2 separate regions of the Homo sapiens genome follow, and region 1 is linked to region 2. The links come from fine-mapping of genetic effects on gene expression. Tissue or cell type: whole blood. Region 2 holds a variant in brackets; the other region holds the start of a gene. Each region is shown on its reference strand, or each on the opposite one. Region 1 holds the start of MBNL3 (muscleblind like splicing regulator 3). Region 2 overlaps LUC7L (LUC7 like).

Region 1 (8,333 bases), not on the chromosome of region 2:
AAAATAATTACAAGGATTGTTATGAGAATTAAATGAGTTAATTTGTGAAAAATACTTAGTACAGTGCCTAGAGTAGTTCTACATTAAATGGTTACTGTTACAATTATCGTATTTCTAAGTGAGAATAGGGCTTACTTTTCTTTTTTATATCATGCTTCCATTTTTAAATTGTTCTTACCTTTTTGTATCATTTTATCTGTATCATTCTTAGCACATTTCCCTCTGAGGGCAATTTTAAGAAATATACTATACTTTTCAATAATCAAGGATAATTTGTATAATATGTTCTTAAAAGGCTTGGAAGAGAATTCACCTTGTAAATCCATCAGGCCCAGGTGTGCTTTGAAGGATTTTTTAAAAAAAATTTGTCCTGTTTTCTTCTGTATTTATTAGAATATGTCCAAATAATTCTGACAATTTTGTCCATGTGAAAAAAAAACACTGAGTTCCAGAAATTTTCTTTGCAACCTGAGAGTTATTGATCAATTTATTATCTATGCTTGCAATTTGTTTCTGCATTCAACTAGTTACTAAATTGCCTTATAGTTTCTTCTGTAAGAATACAGTCTGTAACATTTTACAGAGGGGTTACCTTGGAAGCCAACATTTACTTGATTGTTTAAACCCTTTTAACAACCAGATTCTGCTTTCTTCCTGTTTATTTAGTAGGAACCTCTGTGTTGAACCCCAAAGTCCAAATTCCCAACTCTGAATGAAAAAGACTCTTCAGGAATGAATGAATAATCAGTGTCTTTAGCTCTTGAACCACCCTTAAATGGCCAGAGGCTTCTGTATGGAATGACCACAAATACTGCTGTGGGGCTGGAGCCTGTGGAGCCATCGCTAGAACACAGCAGTAGCAAATAATACTCTTGTTGATAGGCTAGTGAGAATAATTCCACAAGTTCAAAACAGAAAAACATGTTTCACCTTTTGTCCATAGCACGGCCTTGCCTGAATGTCCAATAGCACACGTTGACTGTCTGTTTCAAAGAATAATAAATGAGTTATGTGGCTTAGCAGAGGAGTGAAAGGATAATTCTGATCGAATATGTTGAAAGTTCAAAAACTTCTCAAGACCCTGGTTCACTCATATATGCGTGAGTTTAACTTTTCACCTATGCGACATCTTTAAAAATACAGCAACATTTGTTTGGTGGTGGAGTACAATAATCGTTTCGTTATTAAACCATCACATAACTTTTAGAATTCTTTCCTACATCAAAGTTAATTATATTTATTGGAAGAACATGCTACTTGAGAGGTTACTACATCCTTACCCAGAATCCTAGCCTTACATTTGTGTAAGTGTCCATCTCAAGCGTTAAGACATAGAGCAGAAAAAGCATATCCCCTAGGTTTGTTGAAATGTTTGCTTACACACCTGCATTTGACTGAGTAGGAGAGAAGGACGGGACTTTCTTCTTCTTCTTCTCCTTCTCCTTCTTCCCTTCTTCTTCTTCTTCTTCTTCTTATTATTATTATTACTATTATTATTATTATTATTTGAGACAGAGTCTCACTCTGTTGCCCAAGCTGGAGTGCAGTGGCACGATCTCAGGCTCAAGTGATCCTCCTGCCTCAGCCTCCTGAGTAGCTGGGACTACAGGTGCGTGCCACCATGCCCAGCTAATTTTTGTATTTTTAGTAGAGACGGGGTTTCACCATGTTGGCGAGGCTGGTCTGGAACTCCTGACCTCAAGTGATCCACCTACCTTGGTCTCCCAAAGTGCTGGGATTACAGGTGTGAGCCACTCCACCCAGCCAGGGACTTAATTTTTCAATCCGAGTTGCAAGACACTGACTTTTGAAGATCCATCAGGATAGTGGTTGTCAGGTGATCTCAAAACGCAATGGGGGAACAGGCATATGTATTCTGAGACTATAATGTACATACATTATTGTAAGAATTCATCTTGCATATCAGTCAGTACACGACCCTATTTTTCCTGGGTCATGCCACCAATTATGCCTAAAGAGAAGAACAGAAGAGAAAATGTTGGCTAGCTCTAACTACTCTACTAAAATGGAAAGAAAGTAATTCCAAGGTAAGTCCACCCCAGAGAGCAAATGGGCCTTTTTAAAATGCTGAGGGGAGGGAATAGCAATTTCTTAGTGCCTTTGACAACATTCCCCAGTGGCCTGGTGGCATGGAAATTTGCCTAGCTTCATTTGTGGAGGTCATGCCACCCTGGATAAAAGGAAGGCAGTTTACCAGGCTAAACTTTGTTTATAAGGTTTCTTTCCCCTCCAGTGTGGGAAAGAGAGAATAATAAAGTCTCATTTGCAATTTTCACTGGCCAGAAATTAAAAGCAGGAGACAATGTTGAAGCTATAGTATCCCAAAAAATAGCAAATTGACCTATTTATGCCTTAAATTTAAGACAAAACAATTATTTCAGCAGTTCAATAAGATTGAGCCAGTTTTTGTGTTATTAGCAAAACCCCGAATGTCCCACAGATGTGGCTCGCAATGGTGGACAGAGGTAAGAGAGCTGGTGTTGACCCAAGCTATGTTTAATATAAAGACTCCTTTGTTGACTCACTGTGATAACAGTTCCTCATTTGTTAGAGCATTGGGTATAAAGTTATGTAACTCACCCATGCCCTTCTCTCTAGCTGACTGTGATAGCCAACACTGCCTACTTTTTGCTGTGGTAGATCTTGGGACTGCCAAAGCCACTTCCTGTATGTCAGACACATTTGACTTTTACAGCAGTTCAGGCAATTCGGCAAATTTGAAGGAAGGTGGGAAGAGGTGGTTAGGAATTAGAGTCTTTTCCCCCTTTTCTCAAATAACTAGCAACTCCTACTCTCTTGACTTATGCTATGTTTCTACCCAGTATAACAAAGTATCGGACACCATCCCTGCGCATTGTCCCAATGACTTTCACGATACTTGCCAAAACCATCGGGGGTTTTCTCAATTATTTGAAGGGCAGTTTGTACCCAGTCTTGTCCTCCCAGCCATTACCATCCTACTCTATTATCTTGCACTTAACAAACAGATTGATTTCTTGCCTAAAATTAGCTGGAGAATTCTATTTGGATCAGTCCATCAGAATTAAAAAGTATAATTAGCCTGAGAATTCACTCCACTTTTCAACCTAACTGCTGCTTAAATATCTCCTGCAATGTTTTGCACTTTGTGCAGAGCATGTAGAACTCTGTCTCTGGGTGAAGTAGCTGATTACAGGAAAGCAGCCATGAATTGCTATGAGCTTGTCACTGACGATCCTGCATATGTGTGCGTTATCAACTACAATTGTCTTCGTAAAATTAAATAAAAGCACGCATTTATTATTGTGGGGCTCCAATTAAGGGACAGCTGGTGCTCCTATTACACTTGCATTAAATCGAAACTTGTAATTTCCCTGTGCAGATGCACACTTTTTAATCAAGATATAAAATTGCATTTGCTTTGTCCATTTTCCAAAGTATCTGGAACCTTACCTCAGGGTTCCTCTTATCCTGCAAACTCCGTGGAAGAAGGGGAACAGATTGCACTGATCAGCATTTCCCTGTCTGAAATTCTTAGAGGGAAATAAACGATTGGGGCATTTATGAAAGATAAAACCCCCAAGAAGGCAGCTGGTGAGTATGAATGTATTTATTTAGCCTGTAGCGAGTGGACTTATTCATCGACTAAGATCAATTTTGAAAGGACCCATTTCGCCTCACCTGTCTGGGAAGTGTCTATGAGCGTCCCGCTGTGAACCACACTGCCTTTCTCACTGGCACTTCAGTTCCTGAAGAGCCAGAAACTTTGCACCCCTACCCCAACCCCGCCTCTGGGGATGTGTGCCTGCTTCGTTTGTTTTCGCTTTTGTAAAATCTGAGCGTTATGATTTGTCCCCCTTTCCCTTCCTAATGAAATGACAAAGGGTCTGTGCAGCGGGGGCTGGGCTGCTGGGTTTGGGGGCGAGGCGCCACACCCCCTGAGAATAAAGCCCGCGCTGCGCTCTCGGAGAACCAGGCACGAGTGAGCGAACCACACAAAGAATATATTTCGCGACGAAACAGCGCCCTACAGGAAGAAAGTGCCCGCACTCCGAGCGTGAGCCGCAGCGCGACTTTTTGGCGCTCTTTGGGAGCAGTGAGAGAGAGGCGGAGGCCAGAGAGTCCGGGGTGGGCGCGGGAGCCGGGGCGGCCCTTGGCCGCATTCCCGCCCGTCCCGCAGCGGCGCGCGGAGCCAGGTGAGGTTGGCGGCGGCGCCGCGCTACCTGGCCGGGCGGGGCGGGGCCGGGCGGCCGCGTGCGCCGCTTCCGAGTCCGGCGCTCCGGATGCCCGCCCGCGCTCCGCTGGCCCGCGGAGTTTCGCGGGAGTTTCCGTTTTGGCGCCTAAAGCCCCTCGCTGGCGCCGTTTCCCTCCGCGTGCCGCGTCTGTCCGGCGCGGGACGCACGGAGGCGCGGCCCCAGCCCGGGCTGCCTGGGGTCGGCGGGGCTGCGCGAGGGGACGTCTGGCGTCCGGCGGAGGGCACTGGCCCGGGAGGAGGGCACGCCTTTGGCAAAGGCCGGGCGGGGTTGGGACCGGGGTTGCTATGGTAGCTGCGAGCCCGGGCGGGAGCCCCACGCCCGGCCTCCGCGAGGGAGCTGGGGCGCTCCGAGGTGTGCTCCGAGTGGACTGAACCAAGAGCCTGGGAGGAGCGGGTAGGGCCGGCCCGTGGCCTTGTCCCCTCCTCCCACAGCCCGCCGGCCGGCCCCGGGAAGGGGCCTCGAGGAGCCCAGAAAAGAAAGTATTCTGGCCCCTGGAACCGAAAGGAGTCTTGCAAAAAGCACGAAGGGGTCAAGGGGGCCGAAGGGAGAGGGGGAACCGTCGCCTCCGTCCGAGAGTCAGCGTGCGCGTGTCTGTAGACTTGACATTTTATACCCCAGAGCGGCCGACTTGGAGCCGGGTTGCAAGTCCCAGCCCTGAAGTTCTGGAGGTGGGGCGGGCTTTAATTTGCTTATATCTAATGATTTCAGGAACCTCGCTTTAAAATGGCGGCATTCAGTATGCACCCCTGCTAAAGGCTCTCCCGGCACCGGGGCCACCTCGCGCAGCGCTGCTTTTGCTTCTGCCGCTAACAGATGGCATGTGCCGCTGTCGCTGCCGCTGCCCCTGCTGCTGCCGCTGAGAGCAGGGCCCCTTAGCCTCTGGGTTTGCGCTAGCAGCGTAAGGTAAGGCTGGAGATGAATTGGGATTTGTAAGAGAGGCTGCCTTCCTCGGACGCCGAGGAAATAATGCCTTTTAAACTTCATTTTACAAAATAGCAAATAGGAGGAAAAGTCATCCTGCAACTTTGTTGCGATTTTAGAGCTTTGATCATTTTCCTCCTCCTTTCCTCCTCCTCCTTTTTCTTCTTCCTTCTCTTCCTCCTCTTCTCTTCCTCCTCCCCTTCCTTCCTTCTTTCTTTTTTTCTACTTTCTTCTTTTTAATTTAAAGGAACTTCTTGCATGGCATATAATCAGCAAATGCTTTTTAACAACGAATTTCCCCATTTTCACGCGATATCGTGAGCAGTGCCACAGCTTCCTTGCAGAACCTTGTCTCTTCCTGCCCTGAGTCAACACGTTTGGGCAGCTCGCTTTTACTACTGGGGTTTGAAGGGCATGAGAGTAGATTTTAGGAGACTATTAAAAAGGGAACTTTAGTTTTTAACACTCACACAATAAGCTTTTATGGTAAGAAAACGAAATTAAACCCAGACGAGTAATGAAAGTTGACATTTAAGTGATTCTTTGTTGTGGTTTCATAATTAGGGTAATAGACCTACTGTGTGTTTTTCTGAGCACTCTTAGATAGCTAGCTAGCTAGCTAGCTAGCTAGATGATAGATAAAACAGATAAATTAATTGTGGCTCTAATTAAAGTAATATGTTTTAAAGGAGTTATTTTCTCCTAGATGTTCTTACATCGTTTGTAAATTGAGCTGGGATCCCCACAGCCTCTCCGTATTTGTGGGTAGACTTCATGGGAAAGAATCAATTAAAACAAAACTTGCAAGATTTAATTTTGAAGTGATTGGTACTTTTTTTATTAAGCGGACTCCCTGCTTTAGTGAATAAACGTTTGGGTGATTACTGATATAATGTTTGGAAAACAGATTGTTGGTATGTGGGAATGACTAAACATCCATGCTTGATACAATTTATCTGAATTTTGTTTTGTTTTGTTTCCCCCTCCAGTGAAAGGTAAATAGACAATGAGGCTTATCAGACACCTTGGATTTTTCCTGATTATATTTCCATCTTCTCCTTGGCCCATGAAAATCTAATCCTGAATGTTTAACTACTTTTTAAAATAATTTTTAACTTTTTTCTAATGTGCGATACTTTTGGGGGATGCTTTCATATTTACCAACACTTCTTCAAATATAGACTAAAATGGGCTTCTGCCCACAGCTCAGCTGATAATATTCTATCGCTGTTCACTCCTTCTCCCAAAGCAGTAGAAACTACTTGGTTGGCAGACGCTCTGCTACTAAATTTAGCAAGTGTGTGGAAAGGGAGAAAAATATTGTTTTGCCCTTATTAAAGCATGGTGCAGTTTTCTGCCCAGGTGCTGTAGTCTACCTAGAAACAAACAACCAAACTGTTTACAATGGAATTACTATACAACAAATTTTCAGCAGTTTTTCATATTATTCTTGAAAGAAGTATGTGGGGCAATTCATTGCTTCATGTCTAAAATGAGAGTTCCTGCAGGTAGAGCAATAAACACTTGCATTTTGGTAAAGGGAGGATGAGAAAAAGCAACTTCTCCCATTTTTAGTGATTATGGACTTAGATCCCAGTTCAGTACTGTTTGCTTCCGGATGTGCTACCTTGCTGCTAAAAGACTTCGGACCAAATGCATCCTTAAAAAAAAAGAAAAAAAGAAAGAAAGAAAAGTGAAAATACTAAACCTTGAGGCCAGAATAGACAAGCTAAACTGGTGTCAGAGAAATTAGGAAATTTTGCCAGTTAACATTCTGCTGCCTCATACAGTGATGAGATTGGAGACCTTATATGAAAACATAAGTGAAGGAGTTTGTAAAAAAAAAATGTTTTGAGAGATAATTGATATAGTGCTGGGCTAGAGGTGGTGACTGCATGTTTTGCTCTACTTCTAAGAGCTACTTCATTTCTCTAATTTCCTTTGCTACTTTAAGCAATCGTAATGACTCCCAGGACTATTATAAAGTACCTTTTTTTTCCTCAACTGTCCACTTCAGGCATTTCACAACAGCTGCTTTTTATGATTATGAGCTGGTAGCAAAGGACCTTTGGTATTCTCTTGCACCACCCTCTACCTAGATAATGCTTTGCACAAACTAGGTGCTTAATAAATGTTACATTAAAAAGAAGAATAGCTTATAAACTCACAGTGGAATAGATTTTGGGTACAGCTTTTAATTTAAACGGAAGGCATTTTTATGCACTCACAAGAACCTAAACATTCAAAGAAGAGTAGAATGTACATTCCCCTAGTTGTCTGCATTGTATTTGCTTCTAAAGGGTTCTCTTGCCTCTCATTGTACTTCCAGGCACTTGTATACTTCATGCTTTTGACCAGTAGGTGTATTATTATCTCTCCAGCTTCACTGTGATACTTCCCAGTATCACAGCAGCTTGGGAATAAAAAAGGTTTTGTCTTTTGAGTGATTGTATAGTACCACACATGCTGGAACAGTGACAGTCTCTTGACTGTTGTGCAGATGTTGACAGTATAGTTTAGTACAGTTTTGTTCTCCACCCAGCTGCCTTTATGTGTGAGGGACGAGGGGAGGGAATGGAGTGAGAAGCTCTAAAATGATGAAGATTTCTATTGATAACATTTTACTTTTATTCTGCTTATAGTACAATAAATTCAGGAAGGTGGCAGAATTTTTCTGTTTTCAAATAAATAATGTTGCCTGATAGGCTTACAAACAGGGATTGGGGCATAGCTGACAGTACATAAGTTATAGTACATTTTTGACAAGTAATTTCATCCTGTAATTAAAGTTAGATAATGGTCACTGCCATGTTAACATTATCAAGTGTCTGTAAGAGCATGAAGGCTACACTCACCTTTACTTCATCAAGGTTCTTCCATGCTGGTGAGTTTTCTTATGACATTGTCTACTAGGCAAAACAGATGGATTTTTCCTCATTCAAATGTATGTGATATCAAGAAAATAGAAATCAGAAGTTGTGTTTGTGGGATTTTTCTGCCTTTCTCTAGGTGTGATATAGCTCTCACTTCAAATATAGAAAGAAACCCGAGCCTCAGCTAAAATGAGATGGACACTTTTCCTGAAAGAGAAGAAACTGTGTCTGGGAGCAAGTTGTTTAATTGTCAATTAACCAACCAGCAAACAAACATAAATTA
Region 2 (8,313 bases):
TTTTATTTCCTTAATGTGTATCTCTGCATTAGAAATGTGAATATTGTGAAATGTTTTTCCCTTCTACCTTAAGAAGCATTAACTTGGTTAGAAAGCTTGTTTTATCATTGCAGCATAGAGTTGACCAAAACAACACAACTCGTATTACAGACTTTGATAAATAATTATTAAAGTAACAGTGCACAATGTATTTGGAAGTGCACCTCTTAATGATAGGGAGAGTGGGAGTTCTGTGCCCTAGTTAGAGGAGGCCTCACTCACAGTAGTCCCAGAGGTATCCACCTTCCTAGGCCTCCCAGAGTGCTGGGATTACACATGAGCCACTGCACCTGGCTAATCCTTAATTTTTTTAAAAACTGCCATCCTTGAGGCTGGGTGTGGTGGCTCACGCCTGTAATTCCAGTCTTTAGGAGGCCAAGGCAGGAGAATCGATTGAATCCAGGAGTTTGAGACCAGCGTGGGCAACATAAGGAGACCCTGTCTCTACCAAAAATTTAAAAATTAGCCAAGCATGGTGGTGTGTGCCTGTAGGTCCAGCTACTCAGGAGGCTGAGGTAAGAGGATTGTTTGGACCTTGGAGCTCAAGGCTGCAGTGAACTGTGATCACGACACTACACTCCAACCTAGACAACAGAGGATTTTTTTCGTTTTTTTTTTCAGAGACAGGGTCTCCCTCTGGCACCCAGGGTGGAGTGTACTGATGTGATGGTAGCTGATAGCTTATTGTCACTGTAACCTGGAACTCCTGGACTCAAGTGGCCCTGCATCCTGAGTCTCCTGAGTAGCAGAGACTACAGGCATGCACCACCATATCTGGCTCATTTTTTTTTTTTAGGTAGGAGGTCTTACTATGTTTCCCAGGCTGGTCTCAAACTCCTGTCCTCACATGATCCTCCCAGTTCAGCCTCCCAGAGTGCTGAAATGGCATGAGCCACCGTACCTGGCTTAAATGCCATCCTTAAACATCACCTTAAAGGTGTCCATCCATGTGTGCCCTGCTTCAGACACAGGATGAGCATGGGTGAAAGTTTAGAGCTGGAGATACCAGTCACCCAGCTCTGCATACTTTCCGTGCCCTTGTGGGGAGCGTGCTCTCATCCACACTGGGTATGGAAGATTATCCTTATGCCATCGTGGCTCTCTGGATGGAGAAGACTCGTGATTCTTTGTCTTACTGGCTCTGACTTGCTCCCACTCAGGGCTTCACTTGACACAGATGAGGGGCATTAAATGTCTTAGAGTTGATATTGGGAGTAGTGGGTATACAGAACGGTGCCCGGTGCTTTTCCACTCAGCTTGTGTTGACGGTATTTTCATTGGCGAGGTTTCTCATCCCCTTATATTGCTTTCTTCATCAAGCCTGATGATTCACATCATCCTGTGTTGAAAGCCAGTTGCAGAGGATTTGTGGTCCACCTCCCCTGGCCTGCTGTCCTCCAACTCAGTTTGTTCTAAAGCCAGCGTAGCACCCAGCACCCTGAGGTTGGGCTGCTTTTTGGCTGTAGGGATTCTGCTCCCAGTAGCAAGATGTGTTTGATGAGATACATCCGTCCTTTTTTACCATAAAGTTTGTACAGTCTCCTACCTATCTGGGTTGGTTTGAAACAATGTGATCAATTCCCTGTGAGTTAGAAGTATAGCACCACTTAGAATAGACAGTTTGTTACCACATTGTTAAAATCTAATGATAGGCTGGGTGGTTCAGGCCTGTAACCCCAGCACTTTGGGAGGCCAAGGCAGGAGGATTGCTTGAGTTGAGGAGTTCAAGCTCAGCCTGGGCAACATAGCAAGATTCCATCTCCATAAAAAATGTTTAAAGATTAGTCTGCCATGGTGGCACACGCCTATAGTCCCAGCTACTCAGGAGGCGGAGCTAAAGAGGCTTGCTTGAGCCTGGGAGGTCAAGGCTCCGGTGAGCTGTGATTGCGCCACTGCACTCCATCCAGCCTGGGTGGACAGAGCAAGACCCTGTTTCAAAAAAAAAAAAGTGGCCAAGCGCGGTGGCTCATGCCTATAATCCCAGCACTGTGGGAGGCCGAGGCGGGCGGATCGTGAGGTCAGGAGATCGAGACCATCCTGGCTAACATGGTGAAACTCTGTCTCTACTAAAAATACAAAAAATTAGCCGGGCGCAGTGCCGGGCGCCTGTAATCCCAGCTACTCCGGAGGCCAGGACAGGAGAATGGCGTGAACCCGGGAGGCGGAGCTTGCGGCGAGCCGAGATTGCGCCACTGCACTCCAGCCTGGGTGACAGAGCGAGACTCCGTCTCAAAAAAAAAAAAAAAGTAAATGTAAACGAGGCCGGGTGCAGTGCCTCACGCCTGTAATTGCTGCACTTTGGGAGGCCGAGGCAGGCATATCACAAGGTTAGGAGTTTGCGACAAGCCAGACCAACATGGTGAAACCCCGTCTCTACTAAACATACAAAAATTAGCCGGCCGTGCTGGCACGCTTGTAATCCCAGCTACTCAGGAGGCTGAGGCAGAAGAATCGCTTGAACCCAGGAGGCAGAGGCTTCAGTGAGCAAAGATCGCGCCACTGCACTGGGCAACAGGGCGGACTCTGTCTCAGGAAAAAAAAATGTAATGATAAAGCATTTTTTCATGTGTTATCTTCTTCATTAAGAAGTTTTAAAAATGAATGTGTTGGCCGGGCGCGGTGGCTCATGCCTGTAATCCCAGCACTTTGGGAGGCTGAGGCAGGCGGGTCACAAGGTCAAGAGATCAAGACCATCCTGGCCAACATGGTGAAACCCCATCTCTACTAAAAATACAAAAATTAGTTGGGTGTGGTGGCATGTGCCTGTAATCCCAGCTACTTGGGAGGCCGAGGCAGAAGAATAGGTTGAACTCGAGGTGGAAGTTGCAGTGAGCCGAGATCACGCCACTGCACTCCAGCCTGGTGACAGTGAGACACCGTTTCAAAGAGAAAAAAAAAAGTATTCCCATTTCCTAAAAGTGTCCCTTCAATTTTTAAATTACCAATACTGAGCTCATATAAAGGTGATTTGTTAAGTAGCATTCACACTCTGGTTTGTGTAACTTGCTCTTCCTCATTTTTTGTTTCATTTATTTAGAAAACTGTCGCTGAAAAGCAGGAGAAGAGAAATCAGGATCGCTTGAGGAGGAGAGAGGAGAGGGAACGGGAGGAGCGTCTGAGCAGGAGGTGAGCCTGAGGGCTGGCACTGGATGGCCTGCATTGGCCTCGGGCATTCCCTGCTCGGTCCATTCCACTGTTGCTTGGAATAGGCAGGGCCTGCCCAATAGGCCGTTATAAAAGAAAATAGTAAGGCCAGGCCTGGCGGCTCACGCCTGTAATCCTGTCAGTTTGGGAGGCTGAGGCGGGCAGAACACTTGAGGTCAGGGGTTCGAGACCAGCCTGGCCAACATGGTGAAACCTTGTCTCTACTAAAAATACAGAAATTAGCTGGGCGTGCTGGCATGAGCCTGTAATCCTAGCTACTCGGAGGCTGAGGTGGGAGAATCACTTGAGCCCGGGAGGCAGAGGTTGCAGTGAGCCGAGATCGTGCCACTGCACTCTAGCCTGGGCAACAGAGACTCCATCTCAACCAAAAAAAAAAAAAAAAAAAGTAAACAGCATATTCAGTCCAACAAAACAAAACAAAACACGTCCCAGCGCAGGACTGTGTGTGCATGGCAGTCAGGTAAGGGATCCAAGCTGTTGGAGGCTGTGTGTGGGCACTGCTGTTTACTTACTGAGTGCTATGGGGCCATTGGACACCTGTTTACGCAGGAGGGGTGGTGCCTGCTCCCCTTTGGCAAGCGTGCTGGGCTGGAGTAGAAGCAGCAGGACCTTGGGGAGCTAGGTGGGAAAATCCAGATGGAGGAGGTGGCAGTTTAAGCCAGGTAAGGGGTGCAAGGAGTCGGGGAAAGTTCTGGGATAGAACTGATGGGATTTGCTGGTAGTGTGTGAAGCGTGCAGAGGAGGAAATGAAGCTGGTCTCCTGGTTTCTGGCCCGGAGTTGCTGCTTGGTGAGGTTGGAAGGCTGGGTGTGGTGTATTGGAGTGGGAGGAGGTGGGAAGTAGAAGATGCCTCTGGCCACACTCAGCTTGAGAGGCCATCTTGAGGTGGGGCTGTTGAGTCTGTTTGGAGTTCAAAGAGGTAGGAGCCAGAAGTATCCACATCCTCCTGGAGACAGCTCATTGTCCAGGAAGGTTCCCAAACCACTTTTCCTGAAATAATTCCTCAGTGCATAACTCAGGGCGAATGTTTATTGTGTTTGTTTTTGAGACAGGGTCTCGCTCTGTCACCAGGCTGGAGTGCAGTGGTGCGATATCGGCTCACTGCAGCCTCCACCCCCTGGGTTCAAGCGAGTCTCCTGCCTCTGCCTCCCAAGTAGCTGGGACTACAGGCCTGTGCCATCACGCCCAGCTAATTTTTGTATTTTTAATAGAGACAGGGTTTCACCATGTTGGCCAGGCTGGTCTCGATCTGTTGACCTCATGATCTGCCTGCCTCAGCCTCCCAGAGTGCTGGGATTACAAGCGTGAGCCACCACGCCCGGCCGTTTGTTGTTTTACCAGCAGGAGATTCTGATTGGAGAGAAACTTAAACAGTATAGAAGAAAATATTAAGCAAAACACACAATCCATTTTTTGCATGGAGTTTACATTTTTACATGCACTGTCATGTTTAGGCCATTTGTGTTGCGGATGTACATGGGGCCACTTGACCTTAATGGCTTACGGGCATAGAATGAGGCCTCATAGCTTGCCTTTTTCAGCCTCTTGGTTGTGTGGCAGAATGAGCTGATGACTCTCACCTGACAGGAAGCCTGTGCCTGGAACTTCGGGCTTTGCTTTTCCTTTTCTGTGTTTTTGGTGTGCCCCACTCGCTGTCTGCACATTCTGTGCTGGTGTCTGTTGTAAAGACTGGAGAATCATTTGTAGGACTTGAGTGCAGCACAGTCAGTGTGCACAGACTTTTCACGGCCCTTGTAATGTTACAGGGCTGCGTCTGATGCTCGGATGTGGGCCTGTCTGTGAGGCTCAGGTGACACTGAGTGTGCCACAGAGTGGCTGTGGGGATGGGAGCATTGGCACTTCCCATTCAGACTGGGAACATGCAGGCAGCTTGAAAACAGCAGGTCTTTGGGGGAGGTGCCTCACTTCTTAAATTTGGAGTCCTCCCCCAAGAGGGTGAGGAATAGGGGTGCTTTCGGGAAGTCATTCACT[T/C]TTTTTTTTTCTTTTTGAGACAAAGTTTTATTCTTGTTGCCCAGGCTGGAGTGCAGTGGCACAATCTCAGCTCACTGCAACCTCTGCCTCCTAGGTTAAAGTGATTTTCCTGCCTCAGTCTCCTGAGTAGCTGGGATTACAGGCACCCGCCACCACGCCTGGCCAGGTTTTGTGTTCTCAGTAGAGACGGGGTTTCACCACGTTGTCCAGGCTGGTCTCCAGCTCGTGACCTCAGGTGATTGCCTGCCTAGGCCTCCCCGAAGTGCTGGGATTACAGGTGTGAGCCACCATGCCTGGCCTTGTTCATCTTTTTTTCCCCCTTTTAGGTCGGGATCAAGAACCAGAGATCGCAGGAGGTAGGTTTCCAGGTCCATTAAAATGTTCTCAAATTTTTTTTTCCATAAGCATTTTTCTTAATATTTAATGATTATGCCTTTACAAATGTTACCTGGCAGGTAGGGCTGGCTTGTGAAGGGCACAGGGCAAGAGGTTGCTTGGTGCCGTGGAGGGTTCCCAGTGTTAATGAGAGGGAAGGTCGGGGCCTGCAGGGTGACAGGAGTATCCAGGCCACATGTTTTCAGGAGACCTCATTGGAAGGACCTAGCCATTGGAGATTAACTGATGGAAATATTTTAAACCTAAATTTGTGGGAGTAAAGGAGAAAATGTCAGTAAAGCAGCAAGCAGAATCTGCTGAGGGGTGGGGCCCTCATAGTGTTGGCACCTATAGAGTCTCAGCCTTGGAGCCTTCTGATTGTTCAGGTCACGCTCCCGGGATCGGCGTCGGAGGCGGTCAAGATCTACCTCCCGAGAGCGACGGAAATTGTCCCGGTCCCGGTCCCGAGATAGACATCGGCGCCACCGCAGCCGTTCCCGGAGCCACAGCCGGGGACATCGTCGGGCTTCCCGGGACCGAAGTGCGAAATACAAGTAACTACTCTGACTCCTTCGGTAGCTGCAACCAGGAGTGAGCCCTTCTCTGTGTTCCCAGGGTCTGCTGAGGGCCGTGTCTGGTGGGGATGGGGCTGGGCTCACCCTCAGGAGTAGGGCTGGGGAGTCGTGAACGGGACTCAGGTGTGGGAAGAGGCGAGAGGGCTGTGGAGGAGCTCGCACGGCGCCAGGTGATGGGCTGCACAGGCACTGTCCCCTGCCTGCGTCCTGGGGCCTGTGCACTGTTGCGTCCATGCTCAGAGTGGCTGAGACTTGTGTCCTGACCAGGCCCTGCTTACCTCTGTTTTGGTTTTTGTTTTTGATATTTTTTTTTCCATTGTGTTTTTACGTAGTGTCATGTTCTGTGCATATAGTGTTGTATTCTCCTTTGCACTGTTTATGTTACAGTGAAGGCTCTCCTTATTAAAAATCTTCGCAAAGGTCACTTTTTAATGGCTATCTAACACTCCATATGTGGTGGGCAAGTCTGGTTGGCCTCCGGGGGGTTTCCAGGTATAGGGGATGTAGGGCCTTGCCTGGCCTGGTCTGCGGGTCCATCGTCAGTGCCTGAGCGGCCAGCAGAAGGGGGGCAGCAGCCTCCACTGAGCCTCTGGTTCCCATTTCCCAGGTTCTCCAGAGAGCGGGCATCCAGAGAGGAGTCCTGGGAGAGCGGGCGGAGCGAGCGAGGGCCCCCGGACTGGAGGCTTGAGAGCTCCAACGGGAAGATGGCTTCACGGAGGTCAGAAGAGAAGGAGGCCGGCGAGATCTGAACCCGTCTCCCGGGTGCTGTAAATAGTCTGATAAACGTTCACACAGTCTAAAATTACCCTTTATATTTGCTGAATACAACTCATCTTTTGTAGTTTAAAATTTCTATTGTTTTGGAGCTAGCTGTGAGTTTCTAGAAGTGTACAGAGTTGCTCCTGTGTTCCCGGGTCATGTTGAGTAGGAATAAATAAATCTGATGCTGCCTCCTGAGGCTGCGGGGGGTTTCTGCTGTCCTCTGCGTAGAGGCTTTTCACTGTGACCCTGTGCCAGTGCCACCAGCACCTCACAGAAACCGTGACTTACTCGTGGGTCACGTCTTGTCTTCTGGCATCCAGTAGATGGCAGGGCACTTCCTGTCCCCTGCATCTGACTGACGGGACCCAGGTGTGCATGGGTGTTTGTTTGCTCGCTCCCACACAACCTTCTGAGTGTCTGAGCTGCCCATCTCCCATGGGGAGGAGGGAGGGGTCCCCATTCTGCATTCATTTATTTAGGAAAAGCTGTCTTGTCTGCTCAGCTGCTACCATAGCCTTAACTTGGGACTCAGGTGAGTTACACTGCATGTCCCCTTTTGAAGTTACTAGCAGAAAACAAAGACCCATGGGGCTGGGCATGGTGACACATGCCTGTAGTCCCAGCTACTACTAAGAAGGCTGAGGCAGGAGGATCTGTTGAGCACAGGACACTGAGGCAAACCTTGATTCCGCCACTGCACTCCAGCCTGGGTGACAAGAAAGCCCTATCTCAAAAAAAAAAAAAAAAAAAAAAAAAAAAAAAATGGTTTGACTCATGTCCCATGTGGGCTGATTATGTTTCCCACCTCTCAGTTCGTTCTTTTTTTTTTTTTTTTGAGACGGAATCTCACTCTGTCGCCCAGGCTGGAGTGCAGTGGCGTGATCTCAGCTCACCGCAACTTCCGCCTCCCAGGTTCACGCCATTCTCCTGCCTCAGCCTCCAGAGTAGCTGGGACTACAGGTGCCTGCCACCTTGCCTGGCTAATTTTTTGTATTTTTAGTAGAAACGGGGTTTCACCTTGTTAGCCAGGATGGTCTCGATCTCCTGACCTCGGGATCTGCCCGCCTCGGCCTCCCAAAGTGCTAGGATTACAGGCGTGAGCCACCGCTCCTGGCCAACACCTTTCAGTTCTTTCTAACATACCTGCTGTACATCAGGCAGGTACTTTAAGACCAAAGTAAAGGGGGACGCGGTGGCTCACGCTTGTAATCCCAGCACTTTGGGAGGCAGATAACCTGAGGTCAGGAGTTCGAGACCAGCCTGGCCAACATGGTGAAACCCTGTCTCTACCAATATACAAAAATTAGCTGGGTGTGGTGGCGGACACCTGTAATCACAGCTACTTGGGAGGCTGAGACAGGAGAATCGTTTGAACCCGGGAGCCAGAGGTTGCAGTGAACCGAGAT

The links. PIP is the estimated chance that this variant, and not a neighbour inherited with it, causes the effect. A credible set is the group of variants that fine-mapping cannot tell apart.
Region 1: MBNL3 starts here. The variant in region 2 is the best candidate, but not a certain one, in a credible set for the expression of MBNL3 in whole blood (TOPMed, PIP 0.71).

Annotation. Positions count from the first base shown.
Region 1 is chrX:132,485,677-132,494,009 of GRCh38, reverse strand. MBNL3 (muscleblind like splicing regulator 3) reads left to right here and starts at 4,972. Exons shown (of 9, transcript NM_001386889.1): 1 at 4,972-5,159. RefSeq lists an enhancer at 979-2,178 and a silencer at 4,124-4,693.
Region 2 is chr16:187,779-196,091 of GRCh38, reverse strand. It overlaps LUC7L (LUC7 like), which reads left to right. Exons shown (of 10, transcript NM_201412.3): 7 at 3,077-3,165; 8 at 5,522-5,551; 9 at 5,957-6,124; 10 at 6,753-7,102. The coding sequence ends at 6,894. Among named protein-coding and RNA genes, the nearest start is that of HBQ1, 11 kb to the right of the region's middle. The variant T/C (reference allele first, on the strand shown) is at 5,196.